4 linked regions of the Homo sapiens genome follow. The protein of the gene in region 1 interacts with the protein of each later gene in a pairwise test. Each region holds a gene or a part of one and is shown on either strand. Other genes may lie near its edges.

Evidence for each region. The genes of interacting proteins can lie anywhere in the genome.
Region 2: the proteins of BAG6 (region 1) and TMTC1 interact in binary tests that used the Homo sapiens proteins (3 or more experiments, as listed by UniProt).
Region 3: the proteins of BAG6 (region 1) and GINS3 interact in binary tests that used the Homo sapiens proteins (3 or more experiments, as listed by UniProt).
Region 4: the proteins of BAG6 (region 1) and ZBTB8OS interact in binary tests that used the Homo sapiens proteins (3 or more experiments, as listed by UniProt).

The regions. Positions count from the first base shown.
Region 1 is NC_000006.12:31,642,662-31,646,161, reverse strand, and holds part of BAG6 (large proline-rich protein BAG6), read left to right. Parts: intron 1-557; coding exon 558-755; intron 756-963; coding exon 964-1,216; intron 1,217-1,532; coding exon of another isoform or gene 1,533-1,559; coding exon 1,560-1,637; intron 1,638-1,747; coding exon 1,748-1,855; intron 1,856-1,967; coding exon 1,968-2,080; intron 2,081-2,184; coding exon 2,185-2,272; intron 2,273-3,046; coding exon 3,047-3,333; intron 3,334-3,500. UniProt on the Homo sapiens protein: ATP-independent molecular chaperone preventing the aggregation of misfolded and hydrophobic patches-containing proteins.
Region 2 is NC_000012.12:29,518,443-29,521,942, forward strand, and holds part of TMTC1 (protein O-mannosyl-transferase TMTC1), read right to left. Parts: intron 2,622-3,500; exon of another isoform or gene 2,491-2,621; intron 2,279-2,490; coding exon 2,176-2,278; intron 1,379-2,175; exon of another isoform or gene 1,289-1,378; intron 166-1,288; coding exon 30-165; intron 1-29. UniProt on the Homo sapiens protein: Transfers mannosyl residues to the hydroxyl group of serine or threonine residues.
Region 3 is NC_000016.10:58,395,471-58,398,970, forward strand, and holds part of GINS3 (DNA replication complex GINS protein PSF3), read left to right. Parts: intron 1-3,500. UniProt on the Homo sapiens protein: Required for correct functioning of the GINS complex, a complex that plays an essential role in the initiation of DNA replication, and progression of DNA replication forks.
Region 4 is NC_000001.11:32,620,320-32,623,435, reverse strand, and holds the end of ZBTB8OS (protein archease), read left to right. Parts: intron 1-1,487; coding exon 1,488-1,574; 3' UTR 1,575-2,616; downstream 2,617-3,116. UniProt on the Homo sapiens protein: Component of the tRNA-splicing ligase complex required to facilitate the enzymatic turnover of catalytic subunit RTCB. Together with DDX1, acts by facilitating the guanylylation of RTCB, a key intermediate step in tRNA ligation.

The sequences.
Region 1 (3,500 bases):
ATATAAACATTAGCTGGATGTAGTGGTGCACACCTGTAATCCCAGCTACTCAGGAGGCTGAGGCAGGAGAATCGCTAGAACTCGGGAGGAGGGGGTTGCAGTGAGCCGAGATTGCACTACTGCACTCTAGCCTGGGTGACAGAGCGAGACTGTCTCAAAAAACAAAACAAAACAAAAAAACACACATTGCAACAAAACAATTTCTCTCTAAACCTGTAAGTGATTTTGTCCTCCCTTACAGAGAAGGTGATAATCTTTGCTGTAAGCACTGTCCTCGTATCGTACCCCTTGTGCCCCTGAATGAATTTAGAAAATGTAAAGTACAGGAGATCAGTATATGATGACTTACTGATTCATAGTAGTGTTTTAATAGGATGTTCCTTATGTGAATAAGATATAATTTATTTGCAAAGATTTGGTCTACATGTAAACTTCCAAGGATATAACTGAAAGTTTTGGAGGACATGGTATTCTCAGTAGGCATTATTGCTTTTATTAGTGAGATGGACTCCAGCTTGATATTTTCTGCCTTTTTGTGTTTGGCTGGTTGTGCGCAGCACGAGGGCCGGGAGGAGGATCAGCGGTTGATCAACTTGGTAGGGGAGAGCCTGCGACTGCTGGGCAACACCTTTGTTGCACTGTCTGACCTGCGCTGCAATCTGGCCTGCACGCCCCCACGACACCTGCATGTGGTCCGGCCTATGTCTCACTACACCACCCCCATGGTGCTCCAGCAGGCAGCCATTCCCATACAGGTGGGTTAGGGGGAGTCTGGCCTGAGGGAGAGTGAGGGGTGTTGATAGAGTGACCCAGGGTAGCTACTGGGCCTGAAGGAGGTTAGGAAAGGAGGAGACTGGAAACATGGTGATGAAGGCTGGAGATACTTTAGAGGTTTATCATGAGGTTTTCTTGGTTAGGCTCTTGTATTTTTCTCACATCTGCCTGTCCATCTGTCTTTTTCAGATCAATGTGGGAACCACTGTGACCATGACAGGAAATGGGACTCGGCCCCCCCCAACTCCCAATGCAGAGGCACCTCCCCCTGGTCCTGGGCAGGCCTCATCCGTGGCTCCGTCTTCTACCAATGTCGAGTCCTCAGCTGAGGGGGCTCCCCCGCCAGGTCCAGCTCCCCCGCCAGCCACCAGCCACCCGAGGGTCATCCGGATTTCCCACCAGAGTGTGGAACCCGTGGTCATGATGCACATGAACATTCAAGGTGAGAATAGTTGCTGGCGAGAAGAGCAGGATCAGCATGATGAGGGAGGTTCATGCTGAGGTGTGAGGGAACAGGGTGGGGAAGGGAGAGGCACATGCTGGTGGTGGTAGCCTGGGGACCAGAGCAGAAGCTTAAGTAGACAGATGTGGGGGGTGTGGGGGTTGGTTTGTCTTTGGAGGTGTGTTTGTGTGGTGAAGGGAGTACCTCTCCCTGTTTAGATGGAGGGAAAGGCAGGCTTTCTGATTGGGGGATTATGGGCCTGAAGTATGCCTGATCTCAGAAGGATATAGTTAGGCCTTGGCCCTACCTACCTCAGGGCCACTGTCTCTGTCTCCCTGCCCAGATTCTGGCACACAGCCTGGTGGTGTTCCGAGTGCTCCCACTGGCCCCCTGGGACCCCCTGGTCATGGCCAAACCCTGGGTAAGAGTGAGGGCATCAGGGCAGGCTGAGCTCTGGGTAGAGAAAGGGAAGGGCTGAGTGGGTGGGTTGAAGGGGTCCAGGTTCAAGGTTACATCAGACCCGCCCCCCAGGCTCCACCCTCATCCAGCTGCCCTCCCTGCCCCCTGAGTTCATGCACGCCGTCGCCCACCAGATCACTCATCAGGCCATGGTGGCAGCTGTTGCCTCCGCGGCCGCAGGTAATGACCTGGAAGGGGAGGCTTGGGAGGTAGGGCACAGTCCATGGTGGCAGCTGGCTGGCAAGGGCCTGGCCCTCAGCCCTCTTCGGTCTGTCTCTTCTGCCACCCACAGGACAGCAGGTGCCAGGCTTCCCAACAGCTCCAACCCGGGTGGTGATTGCCCGGCCCACTCCTCCACAGGCTCGGCCTTCCCATCCTGGAGGGCCCCCAGTCTCTGGGACACTGGTGAGCAAGGGTCGGGGAGTTCTAGTGCGTAACAGTCTAGGGAGAGACTCCTGTGGTGGTGCATGGAAGGGCAGGTCTGAAATTCTCCCTTGCTCTCTATCCAGCAGGGCGCCGGTCTGGGTACCAATGCCTCGTTGGCCCAGATGGTGAGCGGCCTTGTGGGGCAGCTTCTTATGCAGCCAGTCCTTGTGGGTGAGTTTTCATTCTTCCCCACTCAGAGTTTAAACTCCTTTCCTAGTCTGCTCACTGGCACTTTCCAGTTCTTTCCATATTTTCTTGGTTCCTGCTTTCCTGGAATGGGGCTGCTGTAGTGTCTTGTGTCTTCAGGTTTCAGCTTTTTTTTTTTTTTTTTTTTTTTTTGAGATGGAGTCTCACTCTGTTGCTAGGCTGGAGTGCAGTGTACAATCTTGGCTCACTGCAACCTCTGCCTCCCGGGTTCAAGTGATTCTCCTGCCTCAGCCTCCTGAGTAGCTGGGACTACAGGTGCACGCCACCACGCCCAGCTAATTTTTTATGTTTTTAGTAGAGAAGGGGGTTTCACCATGTTGGCCAGGATGGTCTCGAACTCTTGACCTTGTGATCCACCCACCTTGGCCTCCCAAAGTGCTGGGATTACAGGCTTGAGCCATCGTGCCCGGCCAGCTTTTTTCTTTTTTTTTTAAGTTACAGAGTCTTGCTCTGTCACCCAGACTGGAGTGCAATGGTGCAATCCAGTGAGTTAAAGCTCACTGTAACCTTGAACTCCTGGGCTCAAACAGTTCTCCCACCTCAGCCTCCTGAGTAGCTAGCAGTACTAGCTCCTGGCTAGTAATTGTCTTTTTTTTTTTCTGGTAGAGATGGGGTCTTGCTATGTGGCCTAGACTCCTGGGCTCAAGCAGTTCTCATGCCTTGGCCTCCCAAAGTTGCTAGGATTACAGCCAAGAGCCACCATGCTCAGCCCAGCTTTCTTTTTTTGGTTTCTTACAGCTCAGGGGACCCCAGGTATGGCTCCACCGCCAGCCCCTGCCACTGCTTCTGCCAGTGCTGGCACCACCAACACAGCTACCACAGCTGGCCCCGCTCCTGGGGGGCCTGCCCAGCCTCCACCCACCCCTCAACCCTCCATGGCTGATCTTCAGTTCTCTCAGCTTCTGGGGAACCTGCTAGGGCCTGCAGGGCCAGGGGCTGGAGGGTCTGGTGTGGCTTCTCCCACCATCACTGTGGCGATGCCTGGTGTCCCTGCCTTTCTCCAAGGCATGACTGACTTCTTGCAGGTGAGTGGCTGGCTTGCCATTCACCTCATCTTCCTGTCCCCCGGCCCAGCCAGGCAGTGGTACCTTCTTGCCATTATATAACCACTGGGTAAGAGCCCCTAGTGACATGTTAGGGGAAGGGGCCCTGGGAATTCATTGACTCTGAACCTTTCATTTTAAAGATGAAG
Region 2 (3,500 bases), on another chromosome or scaffold:
ACTTATAAAGAAAAGAAAGGGAACTTTACCGCTTGTACCATTCTTCAGCCATGCTGTTCTCTCCCAGTGACCTGTAGAGTCTTCCCAAGTTCACCATGGCCACGTGATGACTGGGGCTAAGTTTGATGGCCTGCTGGTAATGGGCCACTGCCTTTTCTGGTAAGCCTGTAACCAGTGACAGGTTGGTAAGAGCAGAACATGCCTTTTTATAAAAGACATGAACATTTCACTTTCTCTTCTGACTTATAATTCTTTCTCATTATTACAGAGTTATACCAAAATTATTCAATATGCAAATTAGCTTGCATTTCAGCTTCTCATCCTGGCCATTGCCTAACTTTGAACAATTTCACTGTTCATTCATACTTCCAAAAAAATTAACAAAAAAGCAGTAAAAACTAAAACCTATTGTTTTAATTATATATATTATTTTAGTCGAAATTTTTCTGGTCATCGCTCTTGCTAATAGGATGCCTTCAGATTATTAGTGATTGTTATTTATCCAAGATATAACTGGCTCTCATTATATAAAAAATAGAACAGGCTACTGTAGAAATAAAACTGTCCAGAAGCAATTTCTAAGGGTCTGTCTCAATGAACTATACTTCAACATAGCAATTGAAGCATTACTTTAAATAACACATATCAGCTCTATAGTGAAAATCTCTTTTAAAATCATGCACTTTCATTTGAATGGCACTTAATTAATAAGACTTACAACATAATAATGCCACCATGCACTTGTCCAATGCATTATATATTTTTAAATACTTACATTTGTATGGTTTTTGCAGGTATTTTTTTATACAATTTAGCTGCCTTTTGATACTGTTTAGCTGTTTATCAGGATTTAAGAGATATTTAAAAAACCACACACAAAAATTTTCCACTTTACAGATATAGACACTAAAGTGCAAAGATATTCAACAGACTTGATAAAGATCCCAAGGCAAGTGAGAGTAAGGCCAGAAGCAGAATGAAGGCCCTCTACTCTGATAGGTTTCTTCAAAGTAGCTTCCTGGTGAAACTATATTCAGTAACTACACTTTAGAACACTGTGAAATTCTAAATAGAATGGAATGTCTATTATCTACACAGAAATCTTTTCAAGCGTATCTGTTTGAATACAAGTTTGACTAGGAGGTCCCTAGGAGCCTCTGTCTCTGGAGGCAGAGGCTCAATGTCATAGGGTGGTCACAGAGTTATCATTTTTAGGGGTGTGGTGGGGTGGGACTGTTGTTGAAGTAAAAGGAGGAGGGTTAGACCTGCCCAACTAGAGGTTTCTTCTAGTTTTTATATTTTTAAGACAGTTTATTATTATGTGGCCAATGAACCAGCAGGTGGCACTACACAACAATTTTACACAGGCAAAAATAAGGTAAGTTTCTTAGATGTATCAGAATGTAAATTTTATATTCTGTAAAACAAGAGAGCTCCAAATATCCTTGAAAATAAAACCCCTTTAAGCATTTCATATTGAAAAACTAATTAAACTAAATTTTGCTGCAGGGCAGCTAGTCTAGTAATCAACAAGAACAAAGTGGTGCTTTGGCCTTACATTTAAATATAATTTCATTACTTACATTGCATGCCAACAGTACAGAGGCACTACATAAGTCATAAAGAAAAGAGAATTCATGCCCAGTAATGTTTTGCATTAAGTAAGATAAAGTAAGTGTATTTTATATAGCACCTGTCATATAAGAGCATTGTATCAATTTTAATAATGCAGTTTCTAATGTACATCAAGGAAGGAATGATGGAACAATTCTGGAGGCTTTTAAAAAATATGTTATAGAAAAGTATTTACCATCTGCCAGTAACTGCTTTCAGAGGCAGGTTTTGCATCATTGTAGAGAAACATTTCATCATCATGGATTTATAAATATATATAAATAATATTCAAAGAAGATTGGGACTTATTAAATCATAAGGCTACTTCCTGTCCCCTGGGGAGTTTTCCATAGAGAAATGAGTATGAGAATGGCCAGATTTTACTGAATCGAGCTTGAAGATCTAGAGAAATGACAGCCCCGAGGTATAATGACTGTCAATAGTGTGAGCTTCCTGCCAAGCCCAGTGAATTTTACTTCTGAGGATTATTTGCCTTCCATTTTGCTTGATAAATTGTATTAGCTAATCTCAGCAGTACAGTTTCTCTTTAATTTCACTTACCAGTATCAACTAAGAAAACCCCATAGTTGTTGTGTAAATCTGAGCTGTCTGGACAGTTCTTTATTCCAGTTTGGTATATTTCTTCAGCTTCTTTAAACCGCTCCTTTAAAAAGAAAGAAACAAACAAAATAAGTGAGAAAGCTTTCTAAAACCAACAATAACTGAATATTAGGAGCAGGAAAAGCAAAAAAAAAATAAATCTTACTAAGCACCTAATATACAACAGGCTACTGAGATAAGGCACTATGAACTTTGTTTGAATTAAAGGCAATATTAACTGTGTACAAAATACCCAAAATTCATATCTGTATTTAGTTCCCTTAGGGCGAAAAAGATGATGTTTTCTCAAATGGGACCTTTGGAAGGATATGGACCTGTACAACATGCACGCCTACCGGGGAAAAAGGACTGAAAATAGTTGTTCGAATAGGATGCCCTTCACCCCGGTGACTCTCCATACGAAAACGGGGGATGCAAAAATGGTGGAATGTTTTCAGAGGTGGCAATGTGGTTGGGAGGCAGGGCAGTCTGGGGAATTTGTTTTCTAGCTGCATTTGGATAGATGACTCTCTTTTTATCTATATACTGTACTGCTTGTTTTGGGAAGTTTTTGAGGGAAGTAGAGAGGGGAGGCAGATGCAGATGTTGGGGAGGGCTCTGCCCTATCCTTTCATTACTTGAAGTATGTCTACAGCCCACCAGACTGGTGGCTACTTCCCATACTCAGTCCATGCTTTCCACCTCTGAGCTGCTCCCTCCAACAGGTTTATATGTCCCCTCAAGGGTGTACCTCCAACCTGTGTGGCAAGGTTCAGGTCGATCACCACATCTCTCATTCTAGGGCTCCAATTCTAATTGCCCTTGTGTTCTCTTTGTCTAAAGATTCACTTTAGCAAACTTTAGTAATTCTGAGTTACTTTTTAGGTACATTTTTCTTTTTCTTTCTTTCTTTTTTTTTTTTTTTTTGAGACAGAGAGTCTCACTTTGTCGCCTTGGCTGGAGTGCAATGGGGCGATCTCGGCTCACTGCAACTCCTGCCTCCTGGGCTCCAGTGATCCTCCCACCTCAGCTCCCTGAGTAGCTGGGATTACAGGCATGTGCCACCATGCCCAGCTAATTTTTGTATTTTTAGTAGAGATGGGGTTTCCCCATGTTGGCCAGGCTGGTCTCAAACTCCTGGCCTCAAGTGATCCGCCCGTCTTGGCCTACCAAAGTGCTGGGATTACAGGCATGAACCACTGCACTTGGCCCTTTTAGGCATATTTTTCACAACCATTAGAGACTGTTATGTCACACTTACTTTTACTATACAGAAGGTGAAATTA
Region 3 (3,500 bases), on another chromosome or scaffold:
CCTGCGGCCTTCCGCAGTGTTTGTGTCCCTGGGTACTTGAGATTAGGGAGTGGTGATGACTCTTAACGAGCATGCTGCCTTCAAGCATCTGTTTAACAAAGCACATCTTGCACCACCCTTAATCCATTCAACCCCTGAGTGGACACAGCATATGTTTCAGAGAGCACAGGGTTGGGGGTAAGGTCACAGATCAACAGGATCCCAAGGCAGAAGAATTTTTCTTAGTACAGAACAAAATGAAAAGTCTCCCACGTCTACTTGTTTCTACACAGACACAGCAACCATCCGATTTCTCAATCTTTTCCCCACCTTTCCCCCCTTTCTATTCCACAAAGCCGCCATTGTCATCCTGGCCCGTTCTCAATGAGCTGTTGAGTACACCTCCCAGACGGGGTGGTGGCCGGGCAGAGGGGCTCCTCACTTCCCAGTAGGGGCGGCCGGGCAGAGGTGCCCCTCACCTCCCGGACGGGGCGGCTGGCTGGGCGGGGGGCTGGCCCCCCCACCTCCCTCCCGGACAGGGCGGCTGGCTGGGCAGAGGGGCTCCTCACTTTCCAGTAGGGGCGGCCGGGCAGAGGCGCCCCTCACCTCCCGGACGGGGCGGCTGGCCGGGCGGGGGGCTGACTCCCCCACCTCCCTCCCGGACGGGGCGGCTGGCTGGGTGGGGGGCTGACCCCCCCACCTCCCTCTTGGACGGGGCGGCTGGCCGGGCAGAGGGGCTCCTCACTTACCAGTAGGGGCGGCCGGGCAGAGGCGCCCCTCACCTCCCAGACGGGGCGGCTGGCCGGGTGGGGGGCTGACTCCCCCACCTCCCTCCCGGACGGGGCGGCTGGCCGGGCAGAGGGGCTCCTCACTTACCAGTAGGGGCGGCCGGGCAGAGGCGCCCCTCACCTCCCGGATGGGGCGGCTGGCCGGGCAGGGGGCTGACCCCCCCACCTCCCTCCCGGACGGGGCGGCTGGCTGGGCAGAGGGGCTCCTCACTTCCCAGTAGGGGCGGCCGGGCAGAGGCGCCCCTCACCTCCCGGACGGGGAGGCTGGCCGGGCGGGGGCTGACCCCCCCACCTCCCTCCCGGACGGGGCGGCTGGTCGGGCGGGGGCTGATCCCCCCCACCTCCCTCCCGGACGGGGCGGCTGGCCGGGCGGGGGGCTGATCCCCCCACCTCCCTTCCCGGACGGGGCGGCTGGCCGGGCGGTGGGCTGACCCCCCGACCTCCCTCCCGGACGGGGCGGCTGGCCGGGCGGGGGGCTGACCTCCCCACCTCCCTCCCGGACGGGGCGGCTGGCCGGGCGGGGGGCTGACCCCCCCACCTCCTTCCCGGACAGGGCGGCTGGCCGGGCAGAGGGGCTCCTCACTTCCCAGTAGGGGCGGCCGGGCAGAGGCGCCCCTCACCTCCCGGACGGGGCGGCTGGCCGGGCGGGGGGCTGACCCCCCCACCTCCTTCCCGGACGGGGCGGCTGGCCGGGCAGAGGTGCTCCTCACATCCCAGTAGGGGTGGCCGGGCAGAGGCGCCCCTCACCTCCAGGAGAGGGCGGCTGGCTGGGCGGGGGGCTGACCCCCCCACCTCCCTTCCGGACAGGGCGGCTGGCCGGGCGGGGGGCTGACCCCCACCTCCCTCCTGGATGGGGTGGCTGCCGGGCGGAGACGCTCCTCACTTCCCAGACGGTGTAGCTGCCGGGCGGAGGGGCTCCTCACTTCTCAGACGGGGTGGTTGCCAGGCAGAGGGTCTCCTCACTTCTCAGACGGGGCGGCCGGGCAGAGATGCTCCTCACATCCCAGACGGGGCAGCAGGGCAGAGGCACTCCCCACATCTCAGACGATGGGCGGCCGGGCAGAGACGCTCCTCACTTCCTAGATGGGATGGCGGCCGGGCAGAGACGCTCCTCACTTTCCAGACTGGGCAGCCAGGCAGAGAGGCTCCTCACTTCCCAGACGGGGTGGCAGCCGGGCAGAGGCTGCAATCTCGGCACTTTGGGGGGCCAAGGCAGGCAGCTGGGAGGTGGAGGTTGTATCGAGCCGAGATCACGCCACTGCACTCCAGCCTGGGCACCATTGAGCACTGAGTGAACGTGACTCCGTCTGCCATCCCGGCACCTCGGGAGGCTGAGGCTGGCGGATCACTCGCGGTTAGGAGCTGGAGACCAGCCCGGCCAACACAGCGAAACCCCGTCTCCACCAAAAAAATACGAAAACCAGTCAGGCGTGGCGGCGCGCGCCTGCAATCACAGGCACTCGGCAGGCTGAGGCAGGAGAATCAGGCAGGGAGGTTGCAGTGAGCCGAGATGGCAGCAGTACAGTCCAGCTTCGGCTCGGCATCAGAGGGAGACCGTGGAAAGAGAGGGAGAGGGAGACCGTGGGGAGAGGGAGAGGGAAAGGGAGAGGGAGAGCTTGTCTAAATTTTCAATGGTATCAGTACAATGTTCAGAATTTCCTTTACTATCTTTTTAATGTCAGTAGGATTACAGTGGTGTCCTTATTTTTATTTTTAATATCAATAAATTGTGTTCTCCCTTTCTTGATTACCCTTGCCAGGAGTCTATCAATTTTTTTATTCTTTTAAAAGAACTAACTTAGGACTCTGTTGGTTTTCTCTTTTGTACCTTTGTTTTTTAGGTCATTAATTTTTTAATTAGTTCTTTCCTTCTACTTTATTTGGGCTTAATTCTCCCACCACACACACACACACAGATACACATTTTGAGATGGAAACCTAGGTCATTAATTTTTCAATCTTCTTTTATACATTCATAGCTATTCATTTCTTTTAAGTGAAATTATTCTATTCAATTCACAACTTTAATTGCGTTTCATAAGTTTTGATGTGTTATATTTTCATTATCAATGAACTAAAAATACTTTTTAGGCCAGGCATGGTGGCTCACACCTATAGACCCAACACTGGGAGGTGGAGGCAGGAGGATCACTTGAGCCCAGGAGTTCGAGACCAGCCTAGGCAACATAGTGAGTCCCCATCTCTACAAAAAATTTTTTAAAAAAGCCGAGCATGGTAGCACACACCTGTGGTCACAGCTACTCAGGAGGCTGAGGCAAGAGGATCACTTAAGCCTTGGAGGGTCAGTACTGCAGTGAGCCGTGATCACACCACTGCACTCCAGCCTAGATGACACAGCAAGATACTGTCTCAAAAGAAAATAAATAAAAATTTTAAAATACTGTTTAATTTTGCGTTTTAAAATACTGTTTAAAATACTGTTTAATTGTGATTTCTTTTTTGACCTGTAGGTATTTAGAAGACTAGTGCTTAATTTCAAACATTTTGAGATTTGGTCATTTACCATTTTTTATTTCTAGCTTAATTCCACCGTGGCCAGAAAACATAGTCTACATGATTTCAGTCTTGAAAGTTGCTGAGACTTGCTCTATGGCAAAGCATAAGACCAATTTAACCATTCTGTGTGGACTTGAAAAGATGTCTATGGGAAGTCATAGTGTGCAATAAATAATCCGTATGTGTAAATTAGCTCATTTGTTAATTGTTTTGTTG
Region 4 (3,116 bases), on another chromosome or scaffold:
AATGAGGGAGGAATGATCACTAGAGGAGAAGAGAAAGAATTGTCTCAGAGAGTGAAAAAGGGAATTTATTGGTAATTGTAAGATTTTACTGCGAGTACTGAATTCCTGTTTGAGATGTGTGGACATACACTCAGGGTGATACCAGTTAGCATGGTGTGTGCTGCCATAAGCAGACAGTTGAACTTGAATTAGGTTGTGGTTTTGCCAGGTGATTGTGGCAGAGGAGAAAAAGCAGTGGCAGTGCCACTTATATCCTTCTGTGAAATCTTCCTTTTTTTGTGTGGTGTAGAGCTAGCAAATGCCATTTACCTATTGCCTGGTACATTTTATGGTGCACAGAATTATTGTAGATTCCTTTTGGAGCTGGAAAGAACCTAAGAGAACATCTAATTCTGTGGTTTTAAACTGGGGCAGGGTTGGGCAATGTCATGTATCAGAGACGTGTGGAGAGCTTTTGACCTGGGAAACTATATCTTATTCTTCAGCTAGACTTGGAAAGAGAAGAGTCCCAAGAGGTGAAGTGAGTGTTGTCAACTGAGGAAAAGAGAATAAGTTGAATTCCTAGGGCCTAGGTCAGAGTATAAGGAGGTGGTTTTGATTTCAGAAAGAGCCCTGAGCCAAATAGTAGAAAAGCTTGTGTTCTTTGATTCAACCCATTTTCTTTTTTTTTTTTTAATCATCCTCAAAAGTTTTTTACTTTTTTTTCTTTCCAACTTTTATTTTTAGGTTCATGGGGTACATATACGAGTTTGTTACATGGGTAAATTGCATGTTGTGGGGGTTTAGTGTACAGATAATTTTGTCACCTAGGTAATCAGCATAATACCTGATAGGCAGTTTTTCAATCCTCACCCTCCCCCAACTCTCAAATAGACCCGGTGTCTTGTTTCCCTCTTTGTGTTCATGTGTACTCAATGTTTATGTCCCAAATAAATATATGGAAACATGGTATTTGATTTTCTGCTCCTGCATGAATTCACTTAGGATAATGGCCTCCAGCTCCATCCACGTTGTTGCAAAGAACATGATCTCATTCTTTTTTATGGCTGTGTAGTATTCTATGGTGTATGTGTGTCACATTTTCTTTATCCAGTCTACCATTGATGGGCATGTGGATTGATTCTATGTCTTTGCTATTGTGAATAGTGCTGCAGTGAACATACCCATGGATGTGTCTTTATGTGATTTAACCCATTTTATAAATGAAAAACTGATGTCCAGACAGGCCAGACAATTTCTATACACCCAGGTGGAAACAAAGCCAGGATTAGAGTTCCATGTCCCAACTCCATTGTGCATGTGTTGCCTCTCATTTTTCTTGGATCCCTGTATATTCTCCTAATTTGATAACTAATTGTTTCATGTGAGTTTTTCATTTTCAAAATACTAAAATTTTTACTTTCTGCTGATTGTTGCTAGAGTTAATGATTATGATTTCAATATCCTATTTTCCTTTTTTTTTTTTTTTTCTCTAACCCCAACTTTAGGGAACAGAAGTCAAAGCAATAACATATTCAGCAATGCAGGTCTATAATGAAGAGAACCCGGAAGTTTTTGTGATCATTGACATTTAAGACACCAAAAAATAAAAGACTCCTACGAAGAACTGTTTTTGTTTTCCTCTTCCTTTTGAGAAGACACTATGAATTAAATTCTACAGCTTTTTTTTGATATATGGAAATTTGTAGAACAGAAATATTTTAGTTAAAGTGTGACTTTCAGAAAGGGAAAATCAGGGCACAGCCTTGGTCTGTGTTCCCCAAATATTCACACTTTAAAGAATTCTTCAACCCCCCAAGGGACAGTTATGGTCCTTTGATTCTCTGCTGTGGCAGTAGGTGTGCCTCATGCCCTTCCAGTGCAATGCAAGCCCTCCAGCCTCACCCCAGAGAGGATCACTGATGTCAGCAGCAGCCTGAGGCTGAATCCAGGTTGAAAGAAGAATAACTTGAAAAAATATATTTCCACACACAGAATTTTGTTTTTCTTCCAAGTTGGTTAAGACATATATTTTGTTTCTTTTTTTTTTTTTTTTTTGAGACGGAGTCTCGCTCTGTAGCCCAGGCTGAAGCGCAGTGGTGTGAGCTCGGCTTACTGCAAGCTCCACCTCCCGGGTTCACGCCATTCTCCTACCTCAGCCTCCCGAGTAGCTGGGACTATAGGCACCCGCCACCATGCCCGGCTAATTTTTGTATCTTTAGTAGAGACGGGGTTTCACTGTGTTAGCTAGGATGGTCTTGATCTCCTGACCTTGTGATCCGCCCACCTTGGCCTCCCAAGGTACTGCGATTACAGGCATGAGCTACCATGCCCGGCCACAAGACATAGATTTTCTATATGCACATCAAGGGAGGTGCTGGTTTAGGTTGCTATAGGACAGAGCTATCCTGTATTCCAGTTGGTTTTTGTAGAGAAACAATTAGACTTCTCTAGATAGAGCCCTGATTTTTCTCTCACGCTTTCAGTTTTTTAAAAGCACTAATGATATTTCCTGTTTTCTCATAAGAAAAAGTCAATACTATGCCTTACAAAGAGACCTTTCCTTCTAATATAGAATTTTATTTGAAAGTGAGTACATGTTTATAACTAGAGAATAAAAGGAGAATTTTTGAAAAATTTCTTTATTGTTGTTTTTGTTTAACTACTTAAGCTATTCGTCCTTTTTTTTGAGACAGGGTCTTGCTCTGTCCCCCAGGCTGGAATGCAGTGGTGCAATCATAGCTTACTGTGGCCTCGAACTCCTGGGCTCGAGCAGTCCTTCCAACTCAGCTTCCCAAATTGCTGGAACTACAGGAATGCACCACCATACCTGGCTAATTTTTAAATTTTTTTGTAGAGACAGGGTCTCACTATGTTGTCTTGAACTGGTCTTGAACTCCTGGGCTCAAGTGATCCACCTTGGCCCCCCAAAGTACTGGGATTACAGGTGTGAACCACTGCACCAGGCCTAGCTATTTGTCTTTAAGGAGACAGGAGGCCAGGAAAACAACCTTAAAATGATCTGAACTCTTAAAGTAGATGACTTTTTAAAAATGAAATTTAGTTTGATTTGCACCTTTTTTCTTGTTTCTATTGATTGAGGTATTCTCTTTTGGGATCAAGAGTTTGCAAAGTTG